Regions from separate parts of the Homo sapiens genome. Here regions 1 and 2 are each linked to region 3. The links come from fine-mapping of genetic effects on gene expression. A gene starts in region 3. Each other region holds a variant in brackets. All regions are shown on one strand. Distances are from middle to middle.

Evidence for each region. PIP is the estimated chance that this variant, and not a neighbour inherited with it, causes the effect.
Region 1: its variant is fine-mapped to the expression of PAPLN-AS1 in whole blood (INTERVAL, PIP above 0.99).
Region 2: its variant is fine-mapped to the expression of PAPLN-AS1 in whole blood (INTERVAL, PIP 0.96).

Annotation. Positions count from the first base shown.
Region 1 is chr14:73,073,641-73,083,874 of GRCh38, reverse strand. RBM25 (RNA binding motif protein 25) reads right to left here. Exons shown (of 19, transcript NM_021239.3): 3 at 7,507-7,556; 4 at 6,339-6,506; 5 at 324-381. Among named protein-coding and RNA genes, the nearest start is that of RBM25-AS1, 19 kb to the right of the region's middle. The variant C/T (reference allele first, on the strand shown) is at 5,971.
Region 2 is chr14:73,085,764-73,095,997 of GRCh38, reverse strand. RBM25 (RNA binding motif protein 25) reads right to left here. Exons shown (of 19, transcript NM_021239.3): 6 at 7,837-7,997. Among named protein-coding and RNA genes, the nearest start is that of RBM25-AS1, 31 kb to the right of the region's middle. The variant G/A (reference allele first, on the strand shown) is at 5,668.
Region 3 is chr14:73,242,014-73,252,247 of GRCh38, reverse strand. PAPLN-AS1 (PAPLN antisense RNA 1) reads left to right here and starts at 6,247. Exons shown (of 2, transcript NR_135248.1): 1 at 6,247-6,724; 2 at 7,004-8,230. PAPLN (papilin, proteoglycan like sulfated glycoprotein) reads right to left here. Exons shown (of 27, transcript NM_001365906.3): 3 at 7,489-7,604; 4 at 6,552-6,612; 5 at 6,073-6,175; 6 at 2,134-2,264; 7 at 1,218-1,341; 8 at 682-762; 9 at 412-584; 10 at 107-230. It also overlaps the pseudogene RNU6-419P. RefSeq lists silencers at 3,595-3,674, 6,143-6,412 and enhancers at 4,486-4,987, 5,126-5,195.

The DNA of each region.
Region 1 (10,234 bases), 170 kb after region 3:
CTTCTCCCTTACTAATTGTTCCATTTTGATCATGCAGTCATTTCTTGAGACAAAAGAGACTTTTGAAAGAACAAGAAACCAGTTAAATTGAGCAATTTTAATTTTTTCCTTTCCTCTTACACCTTTTTCCTCCTTCTGATCTCAATTCTCAGCCAATATTTTCCCAAACTGCCTTTTAACCCTATTTCAATAAAAAAGAGGACAAAGAGTGCTAATAAAATAAGTCTTACTGATAAAGACAATGAGAGTTAAGTCATGCAAAGTGATTTAAGCACACAGGTTAGTTAAAGTGATTTCAGCAAATAAGGAAAAAAATGACATACCTTGAAGCTTTCCGGAAGCACCTTGTACTCTCTTCCAGCTCAAAACCAAACCACATTTCTTAAAAAGAAAACAAAACAAACAGATTGCTACCATTTAACAAAATAATTTTTAATGTAACTAAAAGCAAAATTATATTTCTACTAGGGATAAAAAACATAAAATAAAAAACCAGCAACTACATTTGCGAAAATTTTTGCAATTCCCACAAACTTATCACATGAAAGAAATGAACAACAAATCATTTAAAGAAAAATATAAATTCTTACTGATTCTTCATTTGCAGAACATTGTTTACCTTTTATTAAAAGTTTCGCATCACTACTTATCCTAACAAAATAAACACGTAAACCTAAATGCCTAAAATTAGAATGGTTAAAACAAACTATAATAAATTTAAGTAAATATTATGAATCTATAAAGAAATGTTTTGAAACAATATGTATGTATTTATAAAGGATTTTTTTTTCTTTTGAGACGGAGTCTCGCTCTGTCACCCAGGCTGGAGTGCAGTGGCGTGATCTTGGGTCACTGCAACCTCTGCCTCCCAGATTCAAGCGATTCTTCTGCCTCAGCCTCCTAAGTAGCTGGGACTACATGCAGGCACCACCACGCCTGGATAATTGTTTTTTGTTTTTTTTTTTTTATTTATTTTTAGTAGAGACGGGGTTTCACCATATTAGCCAGGCTGGTCTTGAACTCCTGACCTCGTGATCTGCCCGCCTCAGCCTCCCAAAGTGCTGGGATTACAGGCACGAGCCACTGCGCCCAGCCATCCCATTAACATGGGAAAACGCTTGATACGGTATGCAAAAATAACTTGGGAAAAGAAAATGCAGATACACAGCAAGACTCTAACTATAAACAAAAACAGCTTTCTGTAAAAATAAAGAGAAATATTCCAAAATGTGAAGGAGGGCAGGTTATCTGAACGGTAGGACACTATTATACTTTAAAAATAAAAGCAGCGAGGTGTAGCTCACGTCTATAATCCCAACACTTTGGGAGGCTGATGTGGAAGGATTGCTTGAGCCCAGGAGTTCAAGACCAGCCTGGGCAACATAGGGAGACACTGTCTCTACAAAAACAAAAAAATTAGGCGGGCGTGGTGGCACACACCAGTGGTCCCAGCTACTCAGGAGGATGAGACGGATGGATGGCTAGAGCCCAGGAAATCGAGGCTGCAGTGAGCTGTAATCATGCCACTATGCTCCAGTCTGAGCAACAGAATGAGACTGTCTCAAAAAAGAAAAATAAAATAAAGTTCCATCCAGTTAAAAAAAAGACAGAAGGAGGAGGGTGTAGGTGAGAAATCTTCAGAGAACAAGAGAAAACTAATGGAAACTTGAAACATGGCATTAAAAATAAATATTTCAATGTAAGTCTGGAAGGTAAAGTTAAGGACAAATCCCAAGAACCCGTGCAAAATAGTAAGAGATGGAAAATAGGAAATCAAAAACACATAGGTCAAACCTGGAAGCTCAACATCCAAACAGAGTTCCTGAAGAAAGTAAAAAGAATTCTCAAATAGCTCAAAATTTTCTCCTGAAAAAAGGCTCCAGAACGAAATGGCCCACCAAGTAAGTGACCAACACAATGATATAAGAAAAATAAGAAAATCAAATAAACATTCGAAGAATTTCACATAATTAGGAACTAAAACCTCCAATCAGTCAAATCCTCACTAGGAGAGGCATTCCAGGGAAAAACAGTTCACACACAAAGAGCATTCAGAATGATGCGGGACTTCTGAAAACCATCATTAGATGCTATAACACGATAAGGCAGCACCTTCAATGTGAGGAAGATAAGCTTCATCACCGAATTCTATATCCCGGTAAACTACTGACCACATGAAATAAAAAGCACTTCAGATTTAGATTCAGAAAAGTTACCAACCACATACCCATATATACCATGTACATCATATACAGAGGATGTATCATCCCAATATAACAGGAACTACTATGTGTCGGCACAAGCAAGATATAGGATCCAAACCACCCAACACAGAACAGCAATAAGGGGAATACTAGAAAAGACAGAAAAAAATCCAAGGATAAAAGTAGACTTAGAGGAACCAGAACACATGAGACGAACAAAGGGACCTGACAGGAGGAGCTCTAGAAAAGAAGGGAAAAGAATCCCCACACTTTGGGAAGCCAAGGTGGGTGGATCACTTGAGGTCAAAAGTTCGAGACCAGTCTGGCCAACATGGTAAAACCCCATCTCTACTAAAAATACAAAAATTAGCCGGACGTGGTGGCGGGTGCCTGAAATCCCAGCTACTTGGGAGGCTGAGGCAGAAGAATCACTGACCCGGGAGGCGGAGGTTGCAGTGAGCTGAGATCGTGCCACTGCACTCCAGCCTGGGCAACAGAGCGAGACTCTGTCTCAAAGATAAAAAATAAAAAATTAAAATAAGAAAATGGACTAGGCAGTGGCTCACGCATGTAATCCCAGCACTTTGGGAGGCTGAGGCAGGGAGATCACTGGAGGTCAGGAGTACCAGACCAGCCTGGCAAACCTGGTGAAACCCCGTCTCTACTGAAAATACAAAAATTAGCCAGGTGTGGTAGCAGGCATCCATAATCCCAGCTACTCGGGAGGCTAAGGCAGGAGAATTGCTTGAACCCCGGATGGCGAGGTTGCAGTGAGCTGAGATCACGCCACTGCACTCCAGCCTGGATAACAGAGTGAGACTCCATCTCAAATAAAAAAAAAAAAAAAGAAAGAAAGAAAACAAACCAAAGAAAGAAAATACAATCATAGCACATAACCTAGTTCTGCTAAAACTATTTACATAATAATACTTATTATCAAGTTCGCCATCTTGTAACACCTGTAAGGAAGTAGGGAAGGGAGACTGAGGCCTTTAACAGTTTAGGCCTCAAGCTACCATAACATGTCAACAGATAATATCAAAATTATGAAGAACAGTAAAAAGGCATATTGAAATAGGAATAAGGTATTTCACAACACAATGTAAAATTCTAAATAAACACCAATTGTTAAAAAAGATGTGTAAGAGGGCCGGGCGCGGTGGCTCACGCCTGTAATCCCAGCACTTTGGGAGGCCAAAGCGGGCAGATCACGAGGTCAGGAGATCGAGACCATCCTGGCTAACATGGTGAAACCTTGTCTCTACTAAAAATACAAAAAATTAGCCGGGCATGGTGGCGGGCGCCTGTAGTCCCAGCTACTTGGGAAGCTGAGGCAGGAGAATGTCATGAACCCAGGAGGCGGAGCTTGCAGTGAGCCAAGATGGTGCCACTGCACTACAGCCTGGGCGACAGAGCAAGACTCCATCTCAAAAAAAAAAAAAAAAAAAAAAAAAAAAGATGTGTAAGAATAGAAACTCGGACATGACACTGCTGCAGTAAATATAAATAAATTGGTGTGGAATTATCTTGTAAAGCTGCAGATAAGCATGCCCTAAGACTCAGAAACGGCACTTCTATGAGAATTTGTGATGAGAATCTTTTCACATACACCTAGGGAGAAAACATTAGCAGTAATAACATAGCAAAACAGAGACTTCCAGAAGCAGACAGGAGCAAACACATTTCTATACTCCAGTACCTTCTGACTTTCCTGAATTCCATTAGAGCAGAGTAAGTGCTAGTTCTCTGCAGACCTCAGATTAGGCCTTGTGGCTACAGTGAAAAGAAGCCCAGGAGAAAACTCAAGAATAAAAATGGAGTCAGGCTTCAGACTGAAATTACCAAAAATCCCATGGAAGTAATAGAAGAAAACAAAACTGAGAAACCCAAAACATCCTCAAACCAGTTAATTAAAACTTACAGAGTGCCCAGGAGATCCAGTCTTCTAAAAGAACAGGAATTTCTTAAATATGAATAGTTGAGGAACAAGAATCATGAATGATGTAAAGTAATTGCCCAGCATCTCAGAGGGGCATAAGGAGAGCAGGCAACAATATTTCCAGAGGATGGCAAGATTGCAGGACTCATACTGAACTACTCATGAGGTGAACCACAGGTTGAGATAACCCTGGCCCTGTCCTTACAGAGAACCTACACAAGATTCTGGGATACAGACGAAGAATGACATCTTTGCAGATCCTCTCAGTGCAGAATATAGTCATTCTTCCAAACTCCTTTTTTTGTGTGTGAGACAAAGTCTAACATTGTCACCCAGGCTGGAGTGCAGTGGCGCCATCTCAACTCACTGCAACCTCCGCCTCCCAGGTTCAAATGATTCTCCTGCCTCAGCCTCCCGCGTAGTTGGGATTGCAGGCACCGACAACCACGCCTGGTTAATTTTTGTATTTTTAGTAGAGATGGGGTTTCACCATGTTGATCAGGCTGGTCTCAAACTCCTGACCTCAAGTGATCCACTCACCTTGGCCCCGCAAAGTGCCGGGATTACAGGTGTGAGACACCGCACCTGGCCTTATTTTATTATACAATCATTCAGCATTATTTCACTTAACAATGTACATGTATCATCAAGATAAAATCTTAAAAAGGTAAAAAAAGTGAATCAACAAGCTTACCAAATTTAAACAACTTATTACTATTCAAGCTCAGAATAAAACTTTAAAAGGAATCAGTCAATCATCATTGGATGCTAAAATCATTGTTTAACATCATTGGGGAAAAGGACTCACAGTCTCAAAATATTAACCCTAGCCAGGTGTGGTGGCCCACGCGTGTAATCTCAACACTTTGGAAAGCCAACGCAGGCGGTTTGCTTGAGGCCAGGAGTTCAAGACAAGTCTGGATAACATGATGAAACCTTGTCTCTAAAAAAACACAAAAATGAGCCAGGTGTCATGGCACGCGCCTGTAATCCCAGCTACTAGGGAGGCTGAGGCATGAGAATCACTTAAATACAGGAGGCAGAGTTTGCAGTGAGCCAAGATGTCACCACTTCATTCAGCCTGTGTGACAGAGCAAATCTGTCTCAAAAGTAAATAAAAATCTTTCATTGGATCATGGATGAAAAATAAAACAACTATTAATATTATGGCCATTACTGGGAAAATTAAATATGAACTACATGTGCATTAGTTAACAATATTATATCAATTTTATATATTTTTTTGTTTTAGAGACTCTCTTGCTCGGGCTGGAGTGCAATTACAAGATCATAGCTCACTGCAGCCTTCAACTCCTAGACTCAAGCAATTCTCCCACCTCGGATTCTGAACAGCTAGGACTACAGGCGTGCATCACCACACCTGGCTTTTTTTTTATTTTTATTTTTTAATCCCTGTCATTATTTTTTTGAGATGGAGTCTCGCTCTGTCGCCCAGGGTGGAGTGCAGTAGCGCGACCTCAGCTCACTGCAGCCTCCATCTCACGGGTTCAAGGGATTCTCCTGCTTCAGCCACCCGAGTAGCTGAGATTACAGGCACACGCCACCACGCCTGGCTAATTTTTGTATTTTTTGTAGAGACAGGGTCTCACCATGTTGGTCAGGCTGGTCTCGAACTCCTGACCACAAATGATCTGCCCACCTCGGCCTCCTGAAGTGCTGGGATTACAGGCATGAGCCACTGCATCTGGCCCTATTATTTTTTAATTTTTTGTAAAGATGTGTCTCGATATGTTGCCCAGGCTGGTCTCGAACTCCTAGCTTAAGAGATCCTCCTGCCTCAGCCTTGCAAAGGACTAGGATGACAAC[C/T]ACAGGCAAAAGCCACTGCACCCGGCCAAATTTCATGTGTGATAGTGGCATTGTGATTATGTCGCAGAATGTCCTTGCTCTTAGGAGATAAATGAAGGATTCACAGGTGAAATGTTATGCCACAATTTACTTTCAAATTATCCAAGAAAAAAGTGTGTGTGGTACACATGTGTACATAAAATATCTAAACATGTTCATTGGTGAATCTAGGAAAAGAATACAAACGTGTTCACTGTACTTTTTCACCTTTGCTGCAGGACTGAAATTTTTTAAAATAAAAAGCAATCACTGAAAGTCTTCTTTCTGCTTAAGTTTGAAATGTAGAATGATAAAAAAATTTTTAATGAAAAATAAACAGTTTAACTTACAGCTAAGAGTTGTCTTATAAGCATGTCTGAAGCTTTCTCGGAAATGTTGCCAACAAAAACAGTGGTAGTAGGACCACAATTTTCATCATTTTCTTTAGCCTTTAAGCCTGGATGATCCTTTCTTGCGCCCAAATGCTTTCCAACCATAGACACAGTGGGTACTAAGACCTAAGGTGAAGAAACAAAATAAAAATTGATCCAGCAATTAAATTTCCTACCACAATTAACATTAGGCTAAAAACATCAGGATTAAATAAATATATATAGCACATTATTTAAGCTCTGCATGCTTGTATACTTCTAAAGCTCCTAAAGTGCATAGCACATTTCATTAATGCAAACTTATTTGTGACAAGTAAACTTCTACTACTAGATTACCTTTCTTCTTAAAAAAGAAACAAAAATAACCAAGAAAACTTTGTTATGTTTAAGACATAATTTTTACTTTTATTTTCTGAAACGGAATTTCGCTCTGTCGCCCAGGCTGGAGTGCAGTGGCATAATCTCGGCTCACTGCAACCTCCGCCTCCTGGGTTCAAGGGACTCTCCTGCCTCGGCCTCCCGAGTAGCTGAGATTACAGGCGCGCACCACCAAGCCTAGATAATTTTTTGTATTTTTAGTAGACACAGGGTTTCACCATGTTGGCCAGGCTAGTCTTGAACTCCTGGCCTCAGGTGATCCTGGCCTATGTCTTGAACATTTAAAATTTATGCCTTAGGCCATATACCTTAGGAAGGTAGGAGGAAACATGTAAAAGGTAGTCCACACAAATTTCATTTCAAAATTTTAATTTTTACAAGGATTCCTATGTTCTTTTAAGAGATCAGACATGTCACATCCTTCTCCCATCTCCCAGGACCAAGATGAGAAGGCAATGAAGAGCCAAAGTCCTAAATTTGTAATAACAAGTATATGAAGAGTCTAGATAGTAACAGGAAAATCATAGAATTATCTACTTAGGGAGCACATTGCAAGGGCAACTGCATATATGCACACCTAAGTGAAAATGATACTTATTCAAATAAATGATATGCTCTACAGGGGTGCTGTCATTCTGTCCTTGTTATTCTTTTAAATACTCATAATTTATCTAAGTTTATCATGCTGTTCAGCTTAAAAGCACTAGCACTACCATAACTCATGATTCCTCCTTTAAGTTATACTTACAGTTGGAGCAGGAGCCATAATGCTCATTGGTACAGGAATCATTGGGGTCCCTAAGAAAAGAAAAACCACACTGATTTTACATGACTGCATTCTCTATCAACAACATGCCACACAATTAAGTATCCTTACTCATAATTAACATAAGTGGAAATATAAGACAAATGAAAGTGAAATACTGATAAATACTATCTTATTTTCAAAAGGAATGTGGTATCAGGTTGGTCCATATAAACTTACAAAAAAGACTATCCTGAAAACAAAATGGCCACCTCAATATGCTTTTGACTTAAAGAGCATAAAATCCTGGATAGTTATCCATTCGGGTTCATGTGGTTCGGTGATCCTCAAAACCAATGCCTTTCACAAATACAGACTGACTTATAGGTGAACAATGCTATTAAAGAATCCTTTAAAAGTAAAAACAGCTGGGCACGGTGGCTCACGCCTGTAATTCCAGCTCTTAGGGAGGCACAGGCAGGAGGACAGATTGAGCCCAGGAGATCGAGATCTGCCTGGGCAAAATAGTGAGACCCCGTTCTCCACAAAAAGGAAAAAAAAAAAAGACCAAAAAAAAGGTAAAACACGTCGTGCAACATGGTGATACAGTTAGTAAGTGTACTATATTCTTGAAAATAACTAAGAGAAAATCTCCACTTAAAATCTAGGGTGTTCTCACAACAACAAAAAATAAGTATGTAAAGTAATACACCAAGTGTTAATTAGCTCAATTTAGTCATTCCACAACATATGTTATTTCAAAACGTTGTGCATGATAAACATATAAAATTTTGTCAAATAAAGTAAAAACAAATCTTTTGACAGTTATTTTAAGCATGAGATGAGAAATTTATGTGTAAATCTAAGAAGAATCTTGTTATTCCTGGCTCTTTCGCAGAAAATAAAAATCATGGGCCGGGCGCAGTGGCTCACGCCTGTAATGCCAGCACTTTGGGAGGCAAAGATGGGTAAATCACCTGAGGTCAGGAGTTTGAGACTAACCTGACCAACATGGAGAAGCCCTGTTTCTACTAAAAATACAAAAATTAGCCAGGCGTAGTGGTGCGTGCCTGTAATCCCAGCTACTCGGGAGGCTGAGGCAGAATTGCTTGAACCCGGGAGGCAGAGGTTGCAGTGAGCCGAGATCACACCATTGCACTCCAGCCTGGGGGACAGGTGCAAGACTCTGTACCAAAAAAATAAATAAATAAATAAAATCATGCTTGTAGTTACAGCTATTCTGGAAGCTGAGGCACAAGGATCCCTGAGCCCAGGAGTTCAAGGCTGCGGTGTGCTAGCATTGTGCCTGTGTATAACCACTGTACTCTAGCCTAGGAAACATAGCAAAACTCCATTTCTTTATTTAAAAAAAAAAAAAAAGGCAGGGAGTGAGGGGACACGGTAGCTCACACCCATAATCCAAACACTTTGGGAGGCCAAGACAGGCACATCGCTTGAGCCAACACGGCAAAACCCCATCTCTACAGAAAATACAAAAATTAGCCGAGCATGGTGGCACACACTCATAATCCCAGTTATTAGGGAGACTGAATCAGGAGAATCACTTGAACCCAGGAGGCAGAGACTGCAGTGAGCTGTAATGGCACCACTGCACTCCAGCGACAGAGTGAGACTCTCTCAAAAAAAGCAAAACAAACAAAAAAAAAAATCAAAGAAATTTAAAATCTTTTCTATAAACCCAATCTACTGGTAAGGAAATTAAAGCACAGATTCTCCATAACCATCTTTTCTGATTCTAAACAAGCAATTAAGCTTACTGCCACCCCCCACCTCCCCACAAGACAGGGTCTTTCTTCCCTATGTTGTCCAGGCTGATCTTGAACTCCTGGGTTCAAGAAATCCTCCTGCCCTCAGCCTCCCAAAGTGATGGGATTACAGGTATGAGCCACCATGCCCAGCCTATAACTTCTAGAACACTCGGGCTTTGCATCATGGTTATGGTAAGGCCCATCGAAAAACGGATCTGAGTCAGTCATGGTGGCACACATCTATAGTCTCAGCTACTCAGTAGGCTGAGGCAGGAGGATCAGTTGAGTCCAGGAGATAGAGGCCACATTAAGTTATGGTTATGCCACTGTACCCCCAGCCTGGGAGACAAAGAGAGATCCTGTCTCAAAAAAATTAATAAATTAAAAATTAAAACCCAGAACTGCATTATGAGCCTATAAATATATGAAGAAAATCAGGATATACGGACCAAAGAGAAAACTGAAGCCCAAATGAAAGTTGTTCAAAACACTTTCCTTCTATAACTATTAATCTGTTTGATGGCTGATAACTAACTTTATTCAGTTTTCTGCAACATTTTCTCAATTTTCTCAATAGAATTTCCTTTCAGCAAAATTCATTTTAAGAAAAAACTTTGTCCAAAGGGCCAGCTAGAGCCTTCCAGTAGAATTTAGTCTATTTATGGTCCATTATAAAACAACTAAGTTACTACTTAAAATCAGTAATTGTTACATGGGATAATAAAGCAGTAGTGTAAACTTTTACATTACTCTTCTGGCAGCAGATGATAACAAATATACATCCATGATTATCTAGAAGCACAGCGTAAAGCAGCTCCACTACAAGCATAATGTCTAAAATAGCTTATTAAAGTACTGCATTCTATTCCATAATATACATGCATAAACAGTTGTTCTGATTTTTTTTTCTTTTTGAGACAAAGTTGCATTCTTGTTGCCCAGGCTGGAGTGCAGTGGCATGA
Region 2 (10,234 bases), 160 kb after region 3:
TCAATAATAATAATTATTATTTTCTAAGAAGTCTAGATTATTCCCTCTATGTGGGGAAAATTGTTGGCTTCTAATGTGCTACAATAGTTGTGCTACAATAGTTGTGCATGCCCCAAAGTTTTTAACGACTTACTTGGTAAACATATACCGTGCACATTTTCAGATACATACAAGAACCATGCTCATGTGCATACATGCCTGGCTCTTGGTCATAATTCCTGCAACTCTATTCAAGGTGAGTTTCATGCCTTGTGCCTCCTTAACAATGTAACTTAGCAGTAACTTTATAAGTTGACCACAAGCATTCTGAAAGCTGTCTCCAATGGATACGTATTCAACAAACATTTTATTTCTTAAATTAATTTGCTCAACAAATTCTTTTTTTTTTTTTGAGGCGGAGTCTTGCTCTGTTGCCCAGGCTGGAATGCAGTGGCGTGATCTCAGCTCACTGCAAGCTCTGGCCTCCCAGTTTCACACCATTCTCCTGCCTTAGCCTCCTGAGTAGCTGGGACCACAGGCTCCCGCCACCACACCCGACTAATTTTTTTGTATTTTTAGTAGAGATGGGGGTTTCACCGTGTTAGCCAGGATGGTCTCGATCTCCTGACCTCATGATCCGCCCGCCTCAGCCTCCCAAAGTGCTGGGATTACAGGCGTGACGACCACACCCATCAACAAATTCTTAAGAGCATACTGTGAGAAAGATGCTGCACTTAGACGGAATAAAATCCAAATTGAAAAACGCTCTCTTCTCCTCAAGCTGTATCACTACAGAGTAACAGATGGGTTATGACACAGATAACTTAAATATAAGGCATTACATGTTATTACAAAACTAACCACTTGGCAGGGCTCGGTGGCTCACGCCTGCAACCCAGCGCTTTGGGAGGCCAAGGTGGGCAGATGACGAGGTCAGGAGTTCGAGACCTGCCTGGCCAGCATGGTGAAACCCCATCTACCAAAAATACAAAAAATTAGCTGGGCATGGTGACATGTGCCTGTAATCTCAGCTATTCAGGAGGCTGAGGCAAGAGAATTGCTTGAACCCAGGAGGTGGAGACTGCAGTGAGCAGAGATCATGCTGCTCCATTCCAGCCTGGGAGACAGAGCGAGACTCTGTCTCCACCCCCATCAAAAACACACACACACACACAGACACACACACACACACACACACACACACACACCTCGCTCCTGTAATCCCAGCATTTTGGGAGGCTGAGGCGGGCGGATCACAAGGTCAGGAGTTCGAGACCAGCCTGACCAACATGGTGAAACCCCGTCTCTACTAAAAAAATACAAAAATTCCCCAGCCGCGTGCAGCGGCTCACTAAGTCAGGAGATGGAGACCATCCTGGCTAACATGGTGAAACCCCGTCTCTACTAAAAACACAAAAAATTAGCCGGGCATGGTCCCAGCTACTTGGGAGGCCGAGGCAGGAGAATGGCTTGAACCCGGGAGGCAGAGATTGCAGTGAGCCAATATCACGCCACTGCACTCCAGCCTGGGCGACAGAGCAAGACTCCGTCTCAAAAGACAAAAAAAATCCTTATAGACCCTAAATTGATTATTGTTTCCACTGTAAACCAAAATTTAAATATCAATATGGCTATTTTACTATTAGAGATAAAGCATTTGGAATTAACTAATTCACATTTTTAGAAGAAAAGTTTATTAACCCAAAAATCTTAACTGATTGCTAATATTTAAAAAAAAAACAATAACAACAACAACAAAAAACCTAGGCCGGATGCAGTGGCTCACACCTATAATCCCAGCACTTTGGGAGGCCGAGGCAGGCAGATCACAAGGTCAGGAGATCGAGACCATCCTGGCTAACACAGTGAAACCCCGTCTCTACCAAAAATACAAAAAAAATTAGCCAGGCGTGGTGGCGGGCACCTGTAGTCCCAGCTACTCGGGAGGCTGAGGCAGGAGAATGGCGTGAACCCGGGAGGCGGAGCTTGCAGTGAGCTGAGATCGCGCCACTGCACTCCAGCCTGGGCGACAGAGTGAGACTCTGTCTCAAGAAAAAAAAAAAAAAAAAACAAAACCTGATCATGGTAGATGATCAGGTTAGAAAGACCACTCCACAGACTGGCAAGTTTCATCTAAAGCTCTATCTCTGGAATATCAACTATACACGATTTTCTGATTTCCTGTTTTTTTCTTATACTTCAGAAACCAGATGGCCGGGTGCGGTGGCTCACACCTATAACCCCAACACTTTGGGAGGCCGAGGCGGGTGGACCACCTGAGGTCCAGAGTTTGAGACCAGCCTAGCCAACATGGCGAAACCCATCTTTACTAAAAATACAAAAAATTAGCCAGGCGTGGTGGCGGGTGCCTGTACTCCCAGCTACTCAAGAGGTTGAGGCAGGAGAATCGCTTGAACCCAGGAGGCGGAGGTTGCAGTGAGCCGAGATTACACCATTGCACTCCAGCCTGGGCGACAAGAGTGAGACTTCGGTGGGCAGAGAGGGAGAAACCAGAAAGCATAATCAGTAATACTGGGAAACAAAAGGTGAAGGATTCAGCCATATAGGAAGCTGACAGATTATCTGTAATGTTTACATGGCCCACCTAGTTGGTTCTTTTCAGAGAAATTAAAATTTCAATAGTAAAGCTAGTAGCTGTGAAGTTAAACAGCTCTGCTGGGCTCATTCTTTGGCACTGAGGTCTAGAATCCAAAGTACGAACCTTTTAAAAAATTTAAGGAAATGCAGAGTTCTTTCTTTTGAGAAAATGTACTCAGCCAGGCTAATTTCCAAAGATGTTCCCCTGAAGCAGCTGTCCTCTATTAAATAGGTTCTTTCCAGAGAATAACTGTTTTTCCAGCACTTGTCAGTGTTCATTCTTGAATATATGGTTAATAACTATGACTTGTGACATACAAGCAGATATATTGTCTCCTATACTATTTTTGCTGGACAGCCAGAAAGCAATAGGACATGAACTAAATTAGCATGGCCACCTCACATGGAATACTTTACTACTAGAGGTCAATAAGAAATGGAAAGAAAAAAAGTTACACCTGCAAATTCTGCAAAATCTAAATTAAAATGTTCAGTCAAGTTGTTTGACAAGACACCTTACACATGCGCAAAATTCTTCTTAAAATTCTGAATCTGGCTGGGCACAGTGGCTCATGCCTGTAAACCCAGCACTTTGGGAGGCCGAAGCAGGAGAACTGCTTGAGCCCAGGAGTTCGACACCAGCCTGGGCAACAACGCGAGACCCCATCTCATAAAAAAAAGAAAATTTTGGGGGGCAGGTGGGAGGGATAGGATTAGGAGATATACCTAATGTTAAATGACGAGTTAATGGGTGCAGCACACCAACATGGCACATGTATATATACGTAACAAACCTGCACGTGGTGAACATGTACCCTAAAACTTAATTAAAAAAAAAAAAAGGCAAGAAAATTTAAAAAAAAATTCTGGATCATGAAAAATATGTTGCTCCCCTAGACAAACTCATGTTTCCTTTTTAGTCAATGAGAAATAAGGAACTAATTGTTTTCTCTTCTGCCTCAGAGGAAAATGCCTAATAAAGCAACACAAAGGGTTTTCAATGTCTCATTCTCCTATCCTCTACTTAACAGCTTTCTAAATTTCTCCAACTAATCAACGACCAAGAATAAAAAACAATCACCATGTCATATTTTTATACTGAAAAATCATGGCGGCAGTAGCCACCCATCTCACCCCCACCATCTTCTCCCCTCCCCCTGCTCCCTCCCTCCAATCTCTCACTCTCCGACTTTCATCTCTCCCTACACCCCCCACCACCCTTAAAAAAAAAATCATGGCAAATCTCTAATCTACTCCACTATATAGTAATATTTGCTTAAGTTATTTGAAAATTTTTTTTTACATCAGATAGAATGCTTTTTTAACCTATATTTGTTGAGTAATATTGACACTTAAGGAAAATATGCCATGTTTATCCTATGACTTCAAGTACCACCGGGCAAGAAGCCAAAGGGCACTCAGAAATACACATATAACAGTTGGAACAATAAATCATATAACTGATATCTGTCAATTGTTTTAATTTTTTATTAAAAATAATTTTTCTGTGTGATTTTATTGCATGTAACTTCGCTTTTTTTTTGAGACAGAGTCTCACTCTGTCACCCAGGCTGGACTGCAGTGGCGCAATCTCAGCTAACTGTAACCTCCGCCTCCTGGGTTTTAAGTGATTTTCCTGTCTCAGCCTCCCAAGTAGCTGGGATTACAGGTGTGCACCACCACATCCGGCTAATTTTTGTATTTTTTTTTTAGTAGAGATGGAGTTCCACCATGTTGGCCAGGCTGGTTTCAAACTCCTGACCTCAGGTGATCCTCCGACCTCGGCCTCCCAAAGTGTTGGGATTACAGGTGTGAGCCACCACATCCAGACACATATTGCTTTTCCTGAAGACCAACAGATCTAAAGTGTGGTTACTCTGGCTAATGTTGATTATACAAAAAATGTAAGCTGGACACAGTGGCTCCTGCCTGTAATCCCAGCACTTTGGAAGGCTGAAGTAGGTGGATCACTTAAGCCCAGGAGTTCAAGACCAGCCTGGACAACACAGTGAAACTTCATCTCAACAAAAAATATAAAACTTAGCCAGTATGGTGGTGCATACCTGTAGTCCCAGCTGAGGCAGAAGGATCACTGGAGCCTGGGAATAGGAGGTTGCAGTGAGCAGAGATCACACCACCCCACACTCGAGCCTGGGTGACAGAGCAACACTCTGTCCCCACCCCAAAAAAAGCAAGCAAGCAAGAAATGTGAAGTCACATAATTGTGCACTTCCTTATTTATAAAAATACGTAGTATAGTGACTTATTTCATTCTCAGAGTTTTTCAGTATAACATTTGCAAATGCTACAAATTAAATGACCTCACAAACTGAAGATTAAACACAAGAAAACAGTGAGTCCTAGCAAATCAGAACACTTTGAAGATACTGAATCCATACTTTCAACTAGTTAGTATACAGTTATCACAAGGCAAACCTGAAAATTCTTATTTCAAACATTTCTGTTTTTTGAGGTTTTAGTGATGTGACAGGCAGTATTACTGATTTGAAATAAAATATAAATAAAATATAATTTCCTTATGAAGCAGGGTGAGGATAGTAAGACTGACAGATAAGCGTCTATTAACAAATGTTAATTCCATCCTTGCTTTAGGCAAGACACTGTCCTAGATGCTGTGGAGGTACAAGATTAAAGAGACACAGCCCACAAACTTATCACCCTTTCTATCTGTAATCAGAGATGGGGGTTGAAAGAGAATATGGGAATGAGATGGGTTACAAGGGGCTGTGAAAGAGAGAGATATATAAACAATATCTACTAAAACAGCTATAAAGATCTGCTTTATATGGGAACAGAGGACTTAATTCTGTCTGACAGAAACTAAGGGCAGGCTGATAAAGTCTGTATGAATCAAGGGACATGTTAATTATAAGTATGGATAGAATTTCAACAGGGAGCTTGGATAGGCAACAAAGACATGAGATGCCAGCAAAGCAAAAGGGAAGACTGTGGAGGTACATGCAGTAGTATGTGCAGGGGAGGGAAGACGGAAGCTAGAAACGTGGACTGGAGTGAGCCTTGAATGTCATCCTAAAAATATGGACTTTATGGCCGGGCACGGTGGCTCAC[G/A]CCTGTAATCCCAGCACTTTGAGAGGCCGAGGTGGGTGGATCACCTGAGGTCAGGAGCTCAAGACCAGCCTGGAAGACATGGAGAAATCCCACCTCTACTAAAAACATAAAAATTAGCTGGGGGTGGTGGCGGGTGCCTAAAATCTCAGCTACTCGGTAGGCCAAAGCAGGAGAATCGCTTGAACCTGGGAGGTGGAGGTTGCAGTGAGCCAAGATTTCGCCACTGCACTCCAGTCTGGGCAACAAAGCGAGACTGCATCAAAAAAAAAGAGGGGGGGTACTTTTTTCTGTAAGAAATCCAAAACCATTAAGGATGGGTCTCACATAATATAAGCAAGAGTTTCATAAAATTATACTTATGTTTTAGAAATACAGGCAATGCTGACCGGGTGGAGTGGCTCACACGTAATCCCAGCACTTTGGGAGGCTGAGGCAGACAGATCACCTAAGGTGAGGAGTTCAAGACCAGCCTCACTTACATAGTGAAAATACAAAAAGTAGCCGAGCCTGGTGGCGGACACCTGTAATCCCAGCTACTTGGGAGGCTGAGGAGGGAGAATCACTTGAACCTGGGAGGTGGAGGTTGCAGTGAGCTAAGGTCGCACCACTGCACTCCAGCCTGGGCAAGAGAGGGAAACTCCATTTCAAACAAACAAACAAACAAAACCCTACATTTGGCCAGGTGTGGTGGCTCACACCTGTAATCCCAGCACTTTGGGAGGCCAAGGAGAACAGATTACCTGAAGTCAGGAGTTCGAGACCAGCCTGGCCAACATGATGAAACCCCATCTCTACTAAAAATACAAAAATTTGCTGAACGTGGTGGTGGATGCCTGTAATCCCAGCTACTCAGGAGGCTGAGGCAGGAGAATCACCTGAACACGGGAGGCAGAGGTTGCAGTGAGCCAAGATCGCACCACTGCACTCTAGCCTGAACGACAGAGAGACTCTGTCTCAAAAAAAACAAAAAACAAATGAACCACATTCATACACAGAAAAATGTCTGGAAGAACATACATCCAAACCGCCTACAGTGTTGCTTATGATGATGGGATTACAGGTGGTATTTAATTGATTATTTATACTTTGCTTCATTTTGTGAGTTTTTTGGGTTTGGTTTTTATTTTTTTTTAACAAAGAACTTGGAGGGAACATGAAAGGTATTTCTTTTTTCTTTTTTGGCAGCAGGGAGACAGAGTTTCACTCTAGTTGCCCAGGCTGGAGTACAATGGCTAGATCCCAGCTCACTGCAACCTCCGCCTCTGCAGTTCAAGCGATTCTCCTGCCTCAGCCTCTGAGTTGCTGGGATTACAGGCACCCACCACAACGCTAGGCTAATTTTTTGTATTTTTAGTAGAGACAGGGTTTCGCCACGTTGGCCAGGCTGGTCTCGAACTCCTGACCTCAGGTGATCTGCCCGCCTCTGCCTCCCAAAGTTCTGGGATTACAGGCGTGAGCCACCGTGCCCAGCAAAAAGCGATTTCTATTTTGAAAGATAATAAAAATTTGACGACAGCGAAAGACTCTTCTGGTTTTGTTTGTGTTGGGGGAAGGCATTAATAAATCTATTTTGGATTTGTTCAGCATGAGATGCCAAAAAGGAACTAAGAAGAGAAATGAAGGAAATATATACTCAAGTTTTAGCTATGTTTCACTTTGCTGAGGAGGTAATAATGTATACATTAAAATACAATATACAACAATGTCCTTTATTTTAGCTTCACTTAGTAGAGCTTGGATAAAGCCCCCAACCTAAGGCAAGTAATCAGACTTTCATTCATTTTAGAGTCGGTGTACTTCTAAAAGAGAGGGAAACTAATAAAAATTGTGTAGGTTGAAATATATTTTGTACTTACTTACAAAGCTGCCTTAATGAATTAGCTCTGTTTGGAATAGTCTGTACCAGTGCTTTCTCTGGCAAGTTAACCTTGTCCAGCCTCCCTTACTACTTTCATCCCAACCTGGAACAAGCAAACCAACAGTCATCCACCCACTATGGGCAGATAAGACTTAAAATAACTACAAACTATAAAATACCCTCCTACATTAAGCCACAAGCACATACATGATGATCTTTTGAAGCCCCATATTAGATTCATTTATAATGAGAAGCACTACACTGAAATAGCACAGTCTGGCCTAGAAAAGATAACACGACAGAAAACATACCCCATTAGAAGCTTTCTTCTTTGCTTTCCATTCATCCAGCTGTGCCTTTGTCTTTGCATCAACTTTAACGAGTAGCTTTTTCTCTCCAATTTGCAGGTCATGTAATAATCTGAGTGCACGGAGGGTAGATTCTGGCTCCTTGTACTCACAGAATCCGAAGGCTAGCAATGGATGAAAACAATTAGTGAAATACCAATTCACTTACAAAAGAAAAAAAATTATGGAAAAGTAGAATCACTAGAGTCCAAATGTTTTAATACAAAGACCACTCAATTCATAATTCCACCCCTGTCCACCAATTCCCTTTGATAACCATTTCACTTTTAGTATCCTCAAACAACCAAAGGGGAAAAAAAGGGAAAAACAGAGAGGAAGAAAAATTCAAATCAGACAAACTGCTACTCATTAGAAGCTCTAATAAAATATTTAGCAGAGTCAATGAAATTCATGATTAAAAGGAGTCAATTGGCCGGGCGCGGTGGCTCATGCCTGTAATCCCAGCACTTTGGGAGGCCGAGGCGGGTGGATCACGAGGTCAGGAGATCGAGACCATTCTGGCCAACACAGTGAAACCCCGTCTCTACTAAAAATACAAAAAATTAGCCGGGCGCGGTGGCGGGCGCCTGTAGTCCCAGCTACTTGGGAGGCTGAGGCAGGAGTATGGCGTGAACCCAGGAGGCGGAGGTTGCAGTGAGCCGAGATAGCGCCACTGCAGTCCGGCCTGGGCGAAAGAGCGAGACTCCGTCTCAAAAAAAAAAAAAAAAAGAAAGGAGTCAATTATTTCATAAATTCACCCTATCTAGACTTCCAAACAGCCACAAGAAAGAACAGACTGCAGGAACACAAACAATGCACTTTTCAATTCTGAGATGTTAAATTACAGAATTTGTATCCTAGTTACCAGTCTATTTTACTTACATCTATTTCCTTTTATAACTAGTCAATCTCACTATTAAGATGACTTTAACAGAAATATTAAAACAAAATTAAATCTAAGAAGAGCAACCAACAAATTGAAAATAAAATCAAATAAATCTAAATATGTATATAATGACAGGAAACAGAAAAAAACTACTGATATTAAAATAGTAAATTTGACATTTCAGTGTGATATACCATAAAGACAAACAGATATGCCCCTCAAAAAAGTACCTTTAGGCCGGGCGCAGTGGCTCATGCCTGTAATCCCAGCACTCTGGGAGGCAGAGGCGGGCAGATCACCTGAGATCAGGAGTTCCAGACCAGCCTGGCCAACATGGTGAAACCCTCTCTCTACTAAAAATACAAAAACTAGCTGGGTGTGGTGGCACATGCCTGTAGTCCCAGCTACTAGGGAGGCTAAGGAAGGAGAATTGCTTGAACCCGGGAGGCAGAAGTTGCAGTAAGCTGAGATTGCCCCACTGCACTCCAGCCTGGGCAACAGACAGAGACCCTGTCTCAAAAAAAAAGAAAAGTAATTTTAAATGATCATATTGCTGATGATAGTGTCAATGTTGTTAGTGTGAAACTGTTATATGTGCAATGCAAGATAAAGCAACTCAGTAATTAATAGTTTATCATCCCCAATGGCCTTGAAACTCGGGGACCTCAGTGTGGGGAAAAAGGAGATACAAATATATGACAAAACAGGCTAAATAAAAACCTTTTAGTCCTGAATCTGAATTAGTATACACTGGAAAAACCTAAAAGCAAACACCAAACCACTGTTTTGTTTTTTTTTTTTTTTAGACGGAGTCTCGCGCTGTCACCAGGCTGGAGTGTAGTGGTGCAATCTCGGCTCACTGCAAACTCTGCCTCCCGGGTTGAAGCGATTCTCCTGCCTCAGCCTCCTGAGTAGCTCAGACTAAAGGAGCGCACCACCACACTCAGCTAATTTCTGTATTTTTAGTAGAGACAGGGTTTCACCATGTTGGCCAGGATGGTCTTGATCTCTTGACCCGCCTGCCTCAGCCTCCCAAAGTGCTGGGATTACAAGCTCGAGCCACCACACCCATCCCAAACCACTGTTAATATGAGTGCACCTAGTGTCCAGATCGTGATCTTCAAAACAATTTCCCCTGGAGAAATGGCTGATTCTAAGTCTGGGGCCGAAAACCTATTATACTAGATGACCTTAGAACAAATTGTCATACCAGATAACAAAGCAGCTGTCAAAGGTGTTCAGGGTCATGTCAAAACCACTGGAGATGTAAAGTGCAGAGACAATTTAAGTTAAGCTTTAATGGTGATAATAACTACAATGAATCCATATTAAATACAATAACACTAAATATGCTTCAATTCCTAAGTTCACAATAATTCAAAAGAAAAAAGAAAATCAGTCACTGCTAGAGAATGCTGAGGATAGCAACTCATTGTTTTAAGAAAGCAAGCCAGTGCATCTATCCTGCCTATTCTG
Region 3 (10,234 bases):
CCCCAGGAGGGACTGCCTTGAGGAGAGGGCTGTGACTTGCCCACCTGTGGCCGTGGGATCCAGCACACAGGGCCCATGCCCTCCCCTGGGCCATCCACGCCCGCACCTCCGCCACACTCCGCGCTGCAGTCACTCCATGAGCCGTGGCTCCAGCTGAAGCCGGGGCTGGGGCGGCGCAGGGGCAGGTGGTACTCATAGTGCACACCGGGGTTGGGCTCCTGGCTGATGAGCTGTCACGGGAGAGTCCTTGTTGGGGTCTGCTGCTGGGGAGCACTCCCACACCCTCCGCAGCCTCACAGCCCCCTGCCAGCCTCAAGCCCAGAGCCACTCAACCCCCCATGTACAGAGCTTGGCAGCCTCTTGGGGACCACGAGCTGCCCACTCGCCCTCTCTCCCCACACCCCCATTTACCTCGATGACCAGGGGCTCCGAGGTGGGGCCCCGGGCATGGAGTCGCTCAGGGGCCAGGTCCCCCTCAGCACCCCGCTCGTAATGCAGGATGGTGCTGGCTGCTGGCAGGGCCCGGGCCGCCTCGATGGTCCAGTGCCCATTGAGGTAGTATTCCCCACGAACATTCTTCACAGCTGCGCAGAGGAGACCGCCTCAGTCAGCCAGAGGGAGCAGTGCCGCACCTCCCCCTGCAGCCCCAGACCTGCCTAGGACCTAACCCTAGGCTCTCACCCAGGAAGTTCCTGCTGGCAGCAGCCTCGTCGATGAGGATGCTGGTGGCACCCATGGGAACTATGAGGATCTGGTTGTAGCCTGGGGGCAGAGACGCAGGTGCTGGGTGTGCTGGGCTATCCCTCTCCCGGCACCACTCAAACAGGACTCCAAGTGCCACACAGCACAGAATGGGGGCAGGGAGGGTACACAAGAGCCAGACAGGGCCGAGCTGCTGGGAAAGGCAACCCTGGCAGAAGAGGCCGCAGTACAAAAGCCAGGGTGGCGGGAAGGCTCAGGGCACCCGGAGCACACTGGGAGTGGGAAGGGATGGGGAGGGCATCCAGGCGGTGGCAGCAGGAGATGGGACTGCACGAGCGGGCACGAGTCCTAACCAAAGGCCACAGGGGGCCTTTCAGATGTGACCTGATATGATCAGAGCCTTCCAGTGCCATGAGGGCCACTTGGCCTGGAGTCTAGGCCAGAGCAGGGACAGGCAAGGAAGGGACAGGCAAGGAAGGGGGCAGGCAACTGCCCCTTGTCGGAACCACCCCCACCTCGGCTGAGGTCATTAGCGTCAAAGGTGCCTGCGACGGGGTAGCAGGTCGTGCCGTCACCCCCACACCGCAGACACTTGTCCTCCTGCTTGGACGAGTCCAGCTCGTGATCACAGCCGACAACCTGTGGGCAGAGATGCGGGAGGCAGGGGAGACGGCATCATGGCCACATCAGGCCTTGGGCCCCGTCGCATCCTAACCCCAGCACCCACGCAGCCCAGGCAGGATAGGGTGGTCGGGAGTGATTCAGCCACCAGCCAGGGGACTGGCCTGTGGCTGACAATCCACTTCTCTGTCTGCTCAGCTCCCATCTCCCCTTCTGGTAATAATGCCCTGTTTTCCTTGAGGGGCCACCTCTCTCCCGCAGAGTTTGAACGGAGCTCCCCAAATGTGGGTTTGGGGAGGTTGGAGTGGTTCAGGGTAAGTCCCAAACCAAGACGAATCAGAGACAACCCCCGGTGGCTAGAACTCCTGGGAATGAGGCCCCCTTTCCCTGGGAATTCCCTTTCTAGGGAGCAGAAGGTCGGAGCAGCTGGCGGCCACCTCCACACCTCCTGGGAAGAATGGGCCAGATCCTGATGCTGGACCCAAGGAGAGGAAAGCCGAGTGGCACCTCATTCATGCGCCTGCGGCTGTCCCTGCTGTTTGTTTTTCTGAAGTCGGTTTTAGCCGGATTTCTGCCACCCAGAGGGTTTCTCTTATTGTAGGGCTAGCGTTCTCCAAGGATGAAGGTGAGGGGCCATAGGGCATCTGTGATGCCTGCAAGGTACCCTAGGAGCTGGGCTTGGTGTCCTGGTAACTTGAGAAGACACCAAGCTCATGGCAGCTACCTGGGCCTATGGGTGATGGACAGGGAAACACCCGCACTGAGCCCCCAGGCAGCCCGGAGGCAGGGAGGGGCTGGGGCACCACTCACCCGGCAGCTGCCATCCACACAGACATCCCTCTTGCCAGGCTCGCAGGGCGTCCCATCAACCACAGCCTCCCTGTGCTTGTAGTAGAAGTTCTCCCCCTTGGGAATGCAGTTCAGTTCACACTTGTTTGGGGCTGGGGTGGGCAGGAAGGCAAGACTGAGATCCTGAGGTTGATGATGCCCCTCCCCAAGACCCAAGGCTTACCCTAGCAACAGGAAAGCATGGGTCAGAAAGCCCTGCAGCAGGCCCCGCAGAGCACAGATCCCCGCCCCATCCCCAGGAGAAGGGACCGTCTCCATGAATCTGTTGCACCTCTAAGGATCAAGTCGAAGAAAAATCCCAGAATCAGGAAAAAGTGAAACACTTAAAGAAGTCTACCTCAGCATTATTTACCACAGCTGAGGTGGTTACAACAGGCTACTTTTTTTTTTTTTTTTTTTTTGAGGTGGAGTCTCGCTCTTGTTGCCCAGGCTGGAGTGCAGTGGCACGATCTCGACTCACTGCAACCTCCGCCTCCCTAGTTTAAGCAATTCTCCTGCCTCAGCCCCCCTAGTAGCCGGGACTACAGGCACGCGCCACCACACCCGGCTAAGTTTTGTACTTTTAGTAGAGATGGGGTTTCACCATGTTGGGCAGGCTGGTCTCGAACTCCTGACCTCAGGTGATCCACCTGCCTCAGCCTCCCAAAGTGCTGGGATTACAGGTGTAAACCACTGTGCATGGCCATAACAGGCTACTCTTTAAATAAATTATCAATGGAATATTACACATGCTGACTATGCAGTTACAAATGATGATTGTGAAGACTATATGGTGTGGGAAGATGCTTAAAACACAGAATGCAAAATGGTGATTACTATGCAATAATTACAAATATGTAAGCATATATGGAGAGAATAATGTGAAAGGGGCTAAAATGAAATGCTAACAGTGATCTTGTGAAAGGGGCAGGATGAGGATAACTTTTTTCTGGTTTTAATGTTTTTCAGATGGGATCTCACTCTGTCTCCCAGGCTGGAATGCAGAGGCACGATCAAAGCTCACAGCAGCCTCTACCTCCGAGACTCAAGTGGTCCTCCAGCCTCAGTCTCTCGAATAGTTGGGACTATAGGCACATGCCATCATACCCAGCTAATTTTTTTATTTTTTGTAGAGACAGGGTCTCACTACGATACCCAGGCTGGTTTCAAACTCCTGGGCTCAAATGATCCTCCTGCCTCAGCCTTCCAAAGCACCAGGATTACAAGCAGGAGCCACTGTACCTGGCCTGGTTTTAATTTTTTTTTCTTCTTTTGGAGACAAGATCTCACTCTGTCGTCCGGGCTGGAGTGCAGTGGTGTGATCTTGACTCACTGCAGCCTCAACTTCCTGGGCTCAAGTGATCCTCCCACCTCAGCTTCTCGAATAGCTGGGACTACATGGGTGTGCAACCATGCCTAGCTAATCTTTGTATGCCTGGCTAATCTTCGTATTTTTGGTAGAGATGGGGTTTCACACATTGCCCAGGCTTGTCTCAAATTCCTGGACTCAAGTGATCCTCCTGCCTCAGCCTCCCAAAGTGCTGGGATTACGGGCATGAGCCACTGTACCCTACCTTAATTTTTATATTTATCTAAATATATACACATTTTAAAACAACCCAAAAGTACAAACAGGATTATAATCATCTCCATACCATGGAAGGTATCCCTCTACTCTCTTTTTAGACTTTCCCCTGTGTTCCAATTTTTCTATCATGTGACTATAATCAAATTATTTTTGACATGTGTCCACTTCAGGATCCAGGGGGAATTCTGAAAGCTAGAGTCCCACTGGGTCACGCCCACAGCCACAATCCCCACAACACACACACACACACACACACACATAGAGGATATGAGACTCCCACTGGGCCATGCCCACAGCCACAATCCCCACAACACACACAGACACACACACACACACACAGAGGATATGAGACTCCCACTGGGCCATGCCCACAGCCACGATCCCCACAACACACACACGCGCACACACACACACACACACACACACACACACAGAGGATATGAGACTCCCACTGGGCCACACCCACAGCCACAATCCCAACACACACACACACACACACACACACACACACACACACACACACAGAGGATATGAGACTCCCAGTGGGCCATGCCCACAGCCACGGTCCCCACAACACACACACACACACACACACACACACACACACACACACACACACGGAGGATATGAGACTCCCACTGGGCCACGCCCACAGCCACGATCGCCACCACACACACACACACACACACACACACACACACACACACACACGGGATAAGAGACTCCCACTGGGCCACGCCCACTGCCACTATCGGCACAACACACACACACACGCACAGAGGACATGAGACTCCCACTGGGCCATGCCCACAGCCACGATCCCCACAACACACACACACACACACGCACACACACACAGGATAAGAGACTCCCACTGGGCCACACCCACTGCCACGATCGGCACAACACACACACACACGCACAGAGGACATGAGACTCCCACTGCGCCATGCCCACAGCCACGATCCCCACAACACACACACACACATACACAGGATATGAGACTCCCACTGGGCCATGCCCACAGCCACGATCCCCACCACACACACACAGAGAGAATATAAGTGCTCCTTGATCTGGAATCTAGAGTGCCACAGGGTCTCCAGAGGTCATTTGCCGCAAGCAGGGAAAACGAACACTCAGAAGACTTGTCTTGAGGAATCTTCTGATTCATCTAAAATGCTTAATGACATACATGTTGGTGCTTACCTGGGTGTTTTTTCCCTGAACTGTATTTCTCTAAAAATTAATGACTTATACCCTCCTCAGAGGTGCACAGACCATCTCCTCTGGCCCCCAGATCCTTGATAAATGAAGTCTTGGTGTACCAAGCCCCTTCCAGCCCCTCCTGCAGGATGACCGTGGGGCACCATTGCTACCGCTCCCGGGGTTCCCCATCTCCGTCTCTGTGCGACGGGAGGAACGCTTCCCATAGCAGACTGAGCAAAAACAGGGCTCAAAATGGTATAGACACACCATAGCTTCGTTTGAAAATATACATACATAAGGGGAGAAAGGATGGAAAGACCTCAAAATGGCTGCCATGGTGTTGCCACGGGCATGTGCTGGGGGGAGCAGGGGTACTGGTGATTGATTCATTATGGGTTGATCGATGGGGTATTTGACAAATGCTGGCTCTGGCAGCACATATACTAAAATTGGAACGATACAGAGATTAGCACAGCCCCTGCCCCCTTAGCTGGTATGGCATGCAAATTCATGAAGCATTCCATATTTACTTTAAAAATTATTTGGGAGGCTGAGGTGGAAGGATTGATTGAGCTTGGGAGGTACATGCTGCCCAGCTGACATGACACTGCTGCACTCAAGCCTGGGCAAGATCCTGTCTCAAAAAAAAAAAAAAAAGAAAGAAAGAAAAAGGAAAAGAAAAAAAGGAAAGGAAAGGAAGAGAGAAAAAAGAGCAAGCGAGAGAGAACGAGAGAGAAAGAAAAGAAAAAAAGATAAAGAAAAAGAGAGACCTCTTGCTCTCTCTCGAGGGACCTCTGCAGACCCTCTCCTCCCCAAAGGTGGGTCCTGTGGTCTACAAGATTTCCTGTACATTGCGAGCCCCCGCGCCCACCCAAAAAAAAAAAAAAAAAAAAAAAAAAAAATTGGTCGGGTACAGTGGCTCACGCCTGCAATCCCAGCACTCTGGGAGGTCGCTGCCGGCGGATCCCTTGAGCCCAGGAGTTCAAGACCAGCCTGGGCAACACAGTGAGACTGTCTCTAATATATATATATATGACAACGCCTCTATAATACGGCAATAGGAACTGTGGCATCAACGTAGGTATACAAGAGGCCCCGAGAGAGCGAGTCCCGGCCGCGCTCACCGCTGTAGTAGGGCAGCCACCGATACCGCCGCCCCTGGAACTCCGCTCCGTCGAACTCCGCGCACTGCTCGGCCCGGAAGTCCCGGGCGCCGTCGGGGCAGCTCTGCGGGGCGGAGGGGAAGTCGGGATCCAGGAGGGCGGAGTCCGAGGTCCGCCCACCTCCCGCCCCGCCCGAGCCCAGGGAGCCCAGGAGTCTCCCTTGCCTGCCCCATCGGAGCCGCCGGAGGTGGAGTCCGCCCCCCGGACCCCCGAACTCCTGTGCGTGCCCCTCCATGGTGCTCTAGGCTGTGGAGGGCAAGGCCAGTCCCCGGGAGCAGGGTGAGGAAGGGGCCCCCACGCAGCCCTGCTGTGGATTGGCGGGAGGACCCCAGGCTGGGCCAACCCAGCAGCCCGCGGCCAGGAGCGGGCATCCCAATGGGGAAATCGGCCAGGAGGGGCTGGGGAAGCTGGTGCCTTCGCCCGCGCCCCGTGAGCTTTACCTCCGTGCGACAAGAGCGGTGGCTCCGGGCGGGGCCCACGCAGCTGGAGCCTCCATCTCTCCTGCGGGACCAGAGCACCGGGAAGACCTGACCGAGACCCAACGTCCCTGCCCCCGTTCTGGGGCTCTCTGCAGGCCCCAACTTCTGCGGGACTCTCCAGTGGGAGCAGCAAGGTGAGAGGGTGTCCCCCGACCCCACCCCGTAAATCCCCCAGGTGGGAGTGAGCGACCCATGTTGGTACTCCAGAGAAGCGGGACTCAGAGCCCTACCCACCCTATAGTTTGGATTTAAGGCGGGACCACTCCACTGCATCTTAGGCAGATTCCCAGAGAAGACCCGAGGTGCATGAGATATAATACCCACCCGCTTGGCACAGCCATCCTGCGATCTAAGCAGGACATCAGTATAAGGCTCTTAGGATCATTCCTGGTCTCTCATTCCTCCTCACATAGGGTTCTCAGGAACAACCCCTATACAAACCGGGACAGAGGCACCTCACTACTCCTTCTGTGCCCCACCTTCTCCACTGACCCTGCCGGAGTGCAGCACACACAGCAAGCATTTAATAAATCGCTTGAAGTGGGGAACATCTGTACTCGGTAAAGAAACCACAGGAATTGGGAACTGCCGGTTGAAGATTATTTACCAGTTCCAGCAAAATTGACTGCACCTGCCATACTGCAGGCCGGTGCAGCATCAGGAGCTGGAGACCAGGGGCAACAGGCAGCACGCGTGCTCCAGCTCAGAGTGGAAGGCCCTGGGAAATGGTTTGATTTCCTGCGCTGAACTGATGCTGCTTCCAGAATGAATCTGCTCCTTGGTGGGTTCTGCTGATGTGGCCAGTGCTAGCCTAGGCCACGACCACCTAGCCCACCACCCAGAAGGCAGCATCCCCTGCTCCTGCTTTAACAAGCTGGCCCATTTTCATCTCTCCTACCTCTGGGAGTAGCAGGGGCGCTCCCGGAAGCTGACACCCCCTCCACAGGTCCGGCTGCAGGGGCTCCACTGGCTCCAGGGTCCCCAGGTGTCACTCTGCCGCCTCACCTTGGGAGCCTGCAGAAGACAGGACCATGCATCAGCATTGCCCACTCACAGCCTGAGCCCAGAGGCCCCTCCAAAGATGCTCTGCCTAAAACCCTCCCCTACCCATCAAGGAGTCTGGGATTCTCCCTTCCAGGGCCCACCTTTAGGACTCAGCAACACTGCCGGGCACCCCAAAACATATTCCTTTTCAGAATTAGCCTGCTTTCCTCATAAGGAGCTGAGAGCCAGGCCTGGAGGGCGGGAGCAGGAGCAGCTGGGAAGAGTTTGGAGTTTCAGGGGCCACTGGAGGGGAGGGACCCTACAGCCAGGGGCAGTTTGAGGGTCCAGGCATTTGTAGGTTAACCGTGATGTAGGGGAGGGGGGCCTAAAAGAAAATAAAGGGAAGCAACGTGGGGGGATCCTGCTAATCTGGCCGAGACTCCCAGGAGTACCCCAATATTCATCCCCTCCTTCTCCCATTGTGAGAGAATGCTTGAAAACTTGACTCAGCTGGGTACCTGGCTGCCCAAAATTTAAAAAAAAAATACATTTCCTGGACTGCCTGCAGCTAACTGTGGCTACATCACTTAGTTCTCATCAGTGAGATGTAAATACAAGTGTTGGGCAGCTGCCGCAAATAATCTCCTCAAGAGAGAGCCTGCGTGAGCCTTTGTCCTTTTCTCCTTCCTCCTGTACTCTTTCAGGCTGTCTGGGAAGCAGATGTGATGGCTGGAGTTGGAGCAGCCTTTTAGACTGTGAGGTAACTTGGAAATAGAGGCTTCAAACAGTGAAGCAAAGATAGAGGGACTCTAGAGCCTGGAGGATTTTGTGCAACAGAATAGCCCCAGACTTCTGACCCCTGGGTGTTTATATGAGAGAGGAATCATGTCTGTCTTATTGAAGAACTGTTATTTGGGACTCTACACAGGATTATAATCCTAGCAGGTACACTTTCCCACCAGAAAGATTGGACCCCTTGCAGCTGGCATCAGGAATCCACATGCCACACACACATTATCTCATTTCATCCTCACAACAACCCGACAGACCCCATTGCATGAATAAGAAAAGTGAGGCAGAGAGAGGAAACCACAGGGGAAGAAGTGGGCACAGTAGCCGGCCAGCCTCACTGCAGTCCTCTGCTCCCCTGCCGAGGCTGTGCCCCCACCCACCTGGGGGAATCAAATGAGACACTAGATGATTCCCTACAGGGTTGGACAGGGATTAGATGTAACTTCACAATTTTCCCAGGAGGCATATGGTGTACATGCAAACATTTGCTGGAAGGGGACTTTCTTTTAGGGTATCACCACTTAAGACTCAAGGAAAAATACCATTCCCACTTTTCAGAGAAAGAGCTCAATGGTCACACAGAAAAGCAGCCGGGCACGGTGGCTCATGCCTGTAATCCCAGCACTTTGAGAGGCCAAGGCAGGCAGATCACCTGAGGTCAGGAGTTCGAGACCAGCCTACCCAACATGGCGAAACCCCGTCTCTACTAAAACTACAAAAAATTAGCCAGGCGTGGCGGCGGGTGCCCGTAATCCCAGCTAGTCGGGAGGCTGAGGCAGGAGAATTGCTTGAACCCGGGAGGTGGAGGTTGCAGTGAGCCGAGATTGCATCACTGCACTCCAGCCTGGGCGACAGAGTGAGACTCCATCTCAAAAAAAGAAAAGAAAAGCAGGCTCTTGCTTTCATGGTGACCCCTGAGCAGCTTCGCTGAATCTCAGGTGAGGAAGGACGTTTACTCATCTCTAACATCCCTGGTGCCAAACATCTAGTTATCCTTGTCTTATAACAAAACCCAGAACACTGAAGCAGAACAAACCACGCACAAACCACGCTAAGCCTGCCGAACCACACACAACCAAGAAGGAAGGGCTTGCCAGATGAGAGGTCTTAGCTTTCACTTTGTAAAATATCTACTCCTTCAAGTCTAACTTGGACAAAAATCTCTAAGCTTTCGAAACCACTGAGCCAAAATATCAAAGTTTTCTCTGAATGAAAGTTAAACTGAAATTTACTTGGATCAAGTTTCTATTTCACAAGGAAGACACTGAGTGTTGAGCGTGAAGGGTGACTTTCCAGAGACAGCCTGCAGCCCCAGCTGGGATTCTGGCACCCGCCCCCCCCACACACAGCCTCATCCCACATTTTAAGTATTCAGGAGAGGTCTTCAGGGGTGGCTGCTTTCTTAGCTGCTGGGTTGGGCCTGGTTGTCAATTACCCTCTGACTAAGGCCTGTTTGGATGTCTGTCTTGGCTCCTTGGCACAGCAGCCAGCAAAATCCACCCTTCCCTGGAGCTGGGCTGGGTGTACTGGTGTGTGGCCAAGGGGTACCCCTGCCATGGAGCCACAGCCTGGCCATCAGGATAAGGCAGGGGCAGGACTGGCCTGAACAAGGGCCCCCTAAGGGACATGCTGTTTCCAGAATGCCCTCTTGCCTCCTGTGCCCAGCACCTGTAAGGCAGGTGTCCACTAGCCAGGAGCCCTAGTCCGTCCCATCCTAGAGCCGTGCTCTGTCCACACACTCCACACTGTCTCTCCAAGGAAGGAAAGCACCTTCAGCCACAGGCAGCATGAGCACACTCTTGCTCTGTAATTACCCAAACCGTGAACTGCCCGACATGGCGTGAAGCCGGAATGAGCTGATACAGCCA